Homo sapiens: one gene and its partner. The protein of the gene in region 2 interacts with the protein of the main gene of each other region in a biochemical or structural test. Each region holds a gene or a part of one and is shown on either strand. Other genes may lie near its edges.

Evidence for each region. The genes of interacting proteins can lie anywhere in the genome.
Region 1: of the proteins of MYL2 (region 2) and ROCK2, one has a biochemical effect on the other in vitro, tested with the Homo sapiens proteins (one study listed by BioGRID).

Annotation. Positions count from the first base shown.
Region 1 is NC_000002.12:11,183,884-11,187,636, forward strand, and holds part of ROCK2 (rho-associated protein kinase 2), read right to left. Parts: intron 3,041-3,753; coding exon of another isoform or gene 2,989-3,040; exon of another isoform or gene 1,902-2,988; intron 887-1,901; coding exon of another isoform or gene 796-886; exon of another isoform or gene 783-795; intron 1-782. UniProt on the Homo sapiens protein: Protein kinase which is a key regulator of actin cytoskeleton and cell polarity.
Region 2 is NC_000012.12:110,918,659-110,922,411, reverse strand, and holds the start of MYL2 (myosin regulatory light chain 2, ventricular/cardiac muscle isoform), read left to right. Parts: upstream 1-1,832; 5' UTR 1,833-1,882; coding exon 1,883-1,885; intron 1,886-3,218; coding exon 3,219-3,308; intron 3,309-3,753. UniProt on the Homo sapiens protein: Contractile protein that plays a role in heart development and function.

The DNA.
Region 1 (3,753 bases), on a different chromosome or scaffold from region 2:
GTTGTAGTAAATATATACAAGCTACTCTATGAAATCTGATTATAAATAGATACCAGTACTACCTGATTTATGTTTTGCAACTTGCTTACTTAGACTAAAACACACATTATTTCTTTTAAATCCTTCTATGTAAAAGGTTTAACTTGAGGCTCAACTTTCATTCAAATCTCCTTTAGCCACTATTAACCAAACTATTTTACATTTTCTAAAAGCACAATTCTCACAGCGTATCACTGACATTCTTCAGCAAGGGTAACATTAAATTCTCACAAAGCAAACATTTCACAGCACCACACACAAAAATGCCAAATCAGAAATAGCTATTTCACAGCACTTATTAGACTTATAAAGTTTTTATGCTTTCAATTCTTGCAAGTTGGAAATAAAAGGAGAGAGATGGAGAAAGGAATCTCATGCTATGTTCACAAACTAATATAGCTGTAGGAACTTGAAAACGTTGTAAATTTTACTTCTCTTCTGAATATGGCTTCTTTGGAATGAACAGAACGTATCAGAATTAACTCCTTTTGTGATTTCTACATCTCATTCCTAAGATAAATTCTAACTGTACTAAAAATTTATAGCCAATAAAGAATCTGAACATAGCATTTCACTTTTACACTTAACATGTAAATTTCAGTTAGCAACTTTTCGAAAACTACTTTTAACTATATACTATTAAAAACAAGTTTCAAAAATAAAAAATAATGAAAGCCCAAGTGGCAAACCACATGCACTACGTTGAAGTACTAAAATAACTGATTTTTCATTTTTTGATTTACCCCATTTATTTCTTCAGAAATCAAAAACATCGTCATCATCATCACCACCACCATCAACATCATCAAATGACCAATCCCAGTCTTTAAATGCCAAATCAAGCAATCTGCAATAGGAGGTTTGTAAATTTATACTCTAACACTCTTTAGAAACTGTAACTTAATGTTATGACTTAGAAATCATACTTTGAATGTGCTTGTAAGCATTTTAATTTTCCCTTCATGGATAACAACAAGATTAAAATTAAGACGGACGCACATAGGGAAGCCTTGCCCTTTATATATAAATGCATATAATCATGTTGGCCAAGTACACTTTCCAGATATTTGAAGACAGCGATCATATTTGGGATAATAAGAAACAATCTGCTTCTCCCTCCTCACTCCCATACCCCAGATAAACACATAACCATCCTGATGCCCAGTTTGATTTGAGAATTATGAAAGCACATTTGTCAATGTTCCCCTTCACCAAAGTGGTCAGATTGTCAGCTCAGTTTTTCCATCATAGCACCAAAAACCATGGGGTAAAAAGGGAGTAATAGAATAAGAAAGCAGCTTTCTGAATTCCAGTAGGACCCTGCCTGCTCAATGTGTCACCAAGAGCTTTGTCCTGCATATGAAAAACTAGGGACAAGGGAAAAGCCACAGGTACATAAGTAGCATTAGCAAGTCATCTTGGCTAAATTGGACTTAGAGTTGGGATATATGTGGTCTTTTCTTTCTAATTCAATAACCTAAACTGTAATATTGCTATCATCTTTGTTTTTAAAAATAGCCACCTGGCCAGATGCGGTGGCTCACGTCTGTAATCCCAGCACTTTGGGAGGCTGAGGCGGGCAGATCACCTGAGGTGAGGAGTTCAAGACCAGCCTGGCCAACATGGTGAAACCATGTCTCTACTAAAAATACAAAAATTAGCTGGGCATGGTGGCAGGTGCCTGTAATCACAGCTACTCAGGAGGCTGAGGCAGGAGAGTCACTTGAATCCAGGAGGCGGAAGTTGTAGTGAGCCGAGATCGTGCCATTGCACTCCAGCCTGGGGAACAAGAGTGAGACTTCGTCTCAAAAAATTAATAAATAAATAAAAATAAAAATAAATAAATAATAAAAAAAAGCAGTAACTTTTTCATTTTTAAAACTGTGGTGTTCATGAATCAACTTGTGCCAAGGAACTCATCTGGTCCCCAAAGTCTCACCTGTAATCACTATTGTCAGTGGTTCTTATTTACACACTTCTAAAGTAAGAAACTTTAGTGTATATGATTTACCTACTGCTCTTTATAAGGCCTCATTCCAAGAGATTTAGATATGACTGAAAAGGGCCCAAATATTTGCATTTTCAAATAAAAAACCTGAGGCGATTTCTGATACAGCTGGTTAACTTTGAGAAACACTGACAGAATAGGTTAATGGATGATTACTCTAATTTAAAATAAACACAGCGACTCAAATTACTCTTTTAAAATGTGCTAAACACAGCACAACATTTGAGAAAACACACAAACAGATATAATTACTCACTGAACACATATCGCAACCTGGCACACACTCACTTCTCTAGACTTATATATAATGTAACTTATAGCCATAGTTTCAGCTCTACTGCTTGGGAGATTGTGATCAGCAGGCCTTCCAGGGCATCCAAGCCTCAGCTTTAGCATAGGTTAGGAGAAAGCTGCATTGCATACCCTTTCAAAACCTTTGAAGTGTGTGCCAGTGTCACAATCTCAAATTTAAGTCTAATCGCTAGATGCGACTGTAGTGTATGACGAGACTTCCCTTACAACCCTCTCCCTCATCCCTTCGAATCAGTCATCTAATTCTAGTTATTTCAACTGAAGAAATCTTTCCAAATCCAGGTTTATTTTCTTCGTTTTCATTGTCAAGTACTCAGTTCAGGATCTCATTAAGCCTGAATACCAATCCCTTACTGAAAGACTTCTACTTATAAATCAAAACTCCTGAGCACAGTGTACATGGAGCTTTTCAGTTGGGTTCAGACTTTCTCTCTAGTGTCACATCATCTTTTACCACTCCCTACCCTTGCCTTCTCCCAACGCCAAGCCAACACAAAATTACAAATACATAAGTAATTCTGATGACTTTGTACCTCTGCACATGACATTTTGCTTGGAACTGATTTTCCCTTATTTGTCTGCTTGTAAAATTATCCATCCTCCATTGTTTGAGATCTTTCTTAATGTCCTCAGGCAGAATTCTCCATGCTTCCCTCGTTTCCCCAAGCGCTCTGTTCATCCCTATATTATAAACAGCATTTTACATAGTACTGTAATTGCCTGTTGCTTGACTGTCTCCACCATTAACAGGGATATAGTTCAGGCCTGCGAAACTTATTGTCAAAGATGCTTTGGAAAGAGTGCATTTAATTTGGAGTTCTACCAGCAGTCCACAAAAGTACCCATTTCGTTTCTTAACCCGTGCCAGTTTGGCAGGTGAAAAATGGTTTTATGTTATAGTTTTAATTTAATGCTAATTTCTTAATACAGTAGTCCCCCCATATCCTTGTCTTCACTTTCCATGGTTTCAAGTTACCAGTGGTGAACCACAGTCTGAAAACATTAAATAGAAAAGCTCAAAACAACTTAGAAGTTTTAAACTGCCCAACGTTGTAAACAGCGTGATGACATCTTGTGCCATCCCACTCTGTCCTGCCTGGGATGTGAGTCATCCCTTTGTCCAGCATATCCATGCTTGTTAGTCACTTACTAATGGTCTTCATTATCAGATTTTAAAAAATTGTATGTGTACGGTCCAGTACTATTCGTGATTCCAGGCATCCACTGGGGGTCTTGGACTACATATCCCTTGAGATAAAGGGGGACTACTGTAATCAGGCTGATCACTTTTTTTTACATTTAACAGCTATTTCCATAATAATGCCTGCATGCGCCTCATTAATTTTGTATGGGGATGAGGCAATCTTTTTTCTCAATGATTTATAAGAACTTTT
Region 2 (3,753 bases):
TCCTCCTGCCTTAGCCTCCCAAGTAGCTGGGAGTACAGGCATGTGCCACAACGCCCAGCTAATTTTTGTATTTTTAGTAGAGATGGGGTTCTGTCATGTTGGCCAGACTGGTCTTGAACTCCTGACCTCAGGTGATCTACCCGCCTCGGCCTCCCAAAGTGCTAGGTGTGAGCCAACATGCCCGTCCTTTTTTTTTTTTTTTTTTTTTTTGAGTCAGAGTCTCACTCTGTCGCCCAGGCTGGAGTGCAATGGCGCTATCTCGGCTCACTGCAACCTCTGCCTCTCGGCCTCAAGCGATTCTCCTGCCTCAGTCTCCTGAGTAGCTGGGACTACAGGCCCGCGCCACAACGCCTGGCTAATTTTTGTATTTTTAGTAGCGACAAGTTTCATCATGTTGGCCAAGGTCGTCTTGAACTCCTGACTCAAGTGATCCACCCGCCTCAGCCTCTCAAAGTGCTGGCATTTCAGGTATAAGCCACTGCACCCAGCAGGAAAGCTGTCTTCAGTAAAAGTATTATATAATGACACCTTGCATTCTGAGAGCAGCTGCTGTTTTCAAGGCTCTTAAAGAGCCTGGACTCTGGAGACAAAGGGGCCTCCAGAGGGGTCCACGCCTAGCTCCATCACTGTGTGACCCTGGGCAGCTCACTTCGCCTCTCTGAGCTTTTGTTTCCGCATCTGTAAAATGGGGGCATGGATGATGAGGTGGTCCCCACCCTCTAGGGTGGCTGGAAAATTATGTGTGGGAGCCATGAGCACATAGTGTCCGGCACGTGCCAGTGCTCAGTCAATGAGATTTGTCATTTCTTCAGTCAACAAATATTTATTTTTGAGCTGCTGCTGTGTGCATCATGAGCTGGGAGCTGGGGAGACAGTCAGTGGTGAGGGAAACTAAAGTGATCCCTGCCCTCTGAGCTGACGCTCCACAGATGCTGAAGAAAATGAGTCAGTGCACTGTGGGCAGTGTTCGGGACTGCCTCACGCTGTGCAGAGAAACAAAGAAGGGAGATCGGAGCGCAGGAGGTGCGTGGCTGTGTTATTTGTTTGTTTTGAGACAGGGTCTTGCTCTGTCACCCAGGCTGGAGTGCAGTGGTGTGATCGTGGCTCACCACAGCCTCAACCTCCCGGGCCCAAGTGATCCTCCTGTCCCAGCCTCCTGAATAGCTGAGACTATAGGCATGCACCACCACGCACAGCTATTTTTTTTTCTTTTGCGTAGAGACAGGCATCTCCCTATGTCACCCAGGCTGGTCGCAAACTCCTAGGCTCAAGCAATCTTCCCGCCTCGGCCTCCCGCCGTGCTGGGATTTCAGGCATGAGCCACAGTGCCAGCCTTCATGGTTATTTTAAAGATGGTGGTCGGGGAGGCTTCACTCAGGAGATGACATATGAGCAAAGATGCAGTGAAGGAGGTGAAGGAAGGAGCCGTGCGATGACTGACAGAAAGACATTCCAGGTAGAGGGCACACAGGTGCAAAGACCCTGAGGCCAGATCCAGGCTGATAAAACAGAGCATTTTAGCAGTCTCCTCTCCCTGCCATTTTTTTTCTCAAAATTGACAAGCACAAGTGTCCCCGGCCCAAGCACCGCAGAGAGCGCGCAGCATCTCTCCCCGTGACCATGACCCAGCTACTGCCTCTTTAACCTTGAATGCCTTTTTGGGGGCTCACGTGTCACCCAGTGGCGAGTGAGCCACCCTTACTTCAGAAGAACGGCATGGGGTGGGGGGGCCTTAGGTGGTGCCCGCCTCACCTATGACTGCCAAAAGCGGTCATGGGGTTATTTTTAAACATGGGGAGGAAGTATTTATTGTTCCTGGGCTGCAGAGAGCTGGGCGGAGTGTGGAATTCTTCTCGGGAGGCAGTGCTGGGTCCTTTCCACCATGGTGAGTACAAGGGCTCCAGGAGGTGATGATGCCGGGTGGGCGAGGAGAGGAAGCCACTACAAGCGAGGGACCACGGCGGAGGGGGAGGAAGGCGGCCCTCAAAGCCTCCAGCCCCTTGTGGAAAAAGCCCCATTGACTGCGCGGGCACAGAGGAACCCCAATCAATGCCCCGATAGGCCACAAATAACAGCAGCTCTCGGGGACTCACAAACACAAAATAAGAGAGTTGGCTTTTTTATGGCTTGTCTACTGACCTCTCGAGGAATCAATAACTCCCAGGACTTGCAAAATGGGATTGAATGCTTTTAAGGATCAAATTGTAATTCTTTTCTCTTGTTCAGGCAGCTGGGAAAAAGAATGTTTTTGTTTTCACCTTTTGAACTTGCAAATTTAAAACCTTTCTTTCTGTGCTGTTGGGTTAGGTGTCCCCCTCCTGAAGTGGGCAGTCCCCAAATCAGGGTCAGCACAGGAGGGAGAGTGGTTAGAGGCAGGAACTCTGGAGTCAGAATGCCCAAGTTCAACTCCCCAAGTTCAACGCCCAAGTTCAACTCCGGCTCTGCCTTCTGTGTGTGTGGCTGTGTGATCTTGGGCAAGTGACCCAACCTCTCTGAGCCTCAGTTGCCTCTCCTGTAAAATGGGGATGATAATAATAGTATCCACTTGACAGAGTGGTTATGAGAATTAAATAATACATATGTAGAGTACCGAATCATTTGCTGTTATTGAAAGTCAGAGAGAAGTGGGGTGGGGAAGAAAGGTCAACTCGCTCTTCTCTGCCCTATTGATGTGGTGCAAGGACGGAGCATTCAGAGAGGAGGTTTTGCTGCCATTTGGAGCAAGGGAAAATTGTGGGGTGTGGGGCGCAGTTGGGTTTTAACACCTTGAAGAACTGTCATTTCATCTTGGCATTCATCATGGCTTAGTGAGCCTGACTTTTTCTTTCCCTCCAATCAATTCTCCTTCTGTGCATTACTGAGCTTTTTGTGAAATGCATCAGAACAAAAGTGGCTGGATCCTGCAGGGGCGATCTGAAGGTGTGGCCTCCATCCCCAGGGACACACCTGTGGCTTCTCCTAGTTGGTGAAGGAGCCACTGCAAGATGCACAAACGCTTATGATCCACTGGTACCAGAGGGCTCTGGAGAAACTTCATGTCATGTCCTTTGCTCCCTCCAGCATCACCGTTTGGAGACCTGAGTGTGGATGCTGTACCCACATTTCACAGATGGGCAGCTGAGCCCTGCAACAGAGATGAACACACCCAGAGTAGGGGCCTGACCTAGTTTTTTGACTCCCAGCCTCTCACTCTTTTAATCGATGCTTTTTTCCCCCAGGCACCTAAGAAAGCAAAGAAGAGAGCCGGGGGCGCCAACTCCAACGTGTTCTCCATGTTCGAACAGACCCAAATCCAGGAATTTAAGGAGGTGGGTGCAGCTATTGAATCATCCGCCTGGATGGAAATCCCACCCACGAGGGAGAACCTTCTTTTTGTTCCATATTCCCAGCAGGGACCTTTCATTAGATGCCTCTATCCTCCAAACAATCCCAAATTCGGCCTGAACGGATGTGTGAATTTTTAAAAGAAACTATTTTTAATATTTTCACTGATTATCAAAGTAAAACATATTCCATGTTGAAAAATGTTGGAAAATTTTTCAGAAAAGCACAGAAAAGGAAATAAAAACTACCTACAATTCTATTACCCAGAGATAATCAGTTCACATTTTAGTATATACCCTTCAAACCATTTTTGTTATCTATGTATATATTTATTAAACAAAATTATAATCTTCTGTGCCCACTGATTACACCTGCATTTTTTTCGTTGAGAAATTCACCATTAACATTTCCTATCATGTATTTAAACCA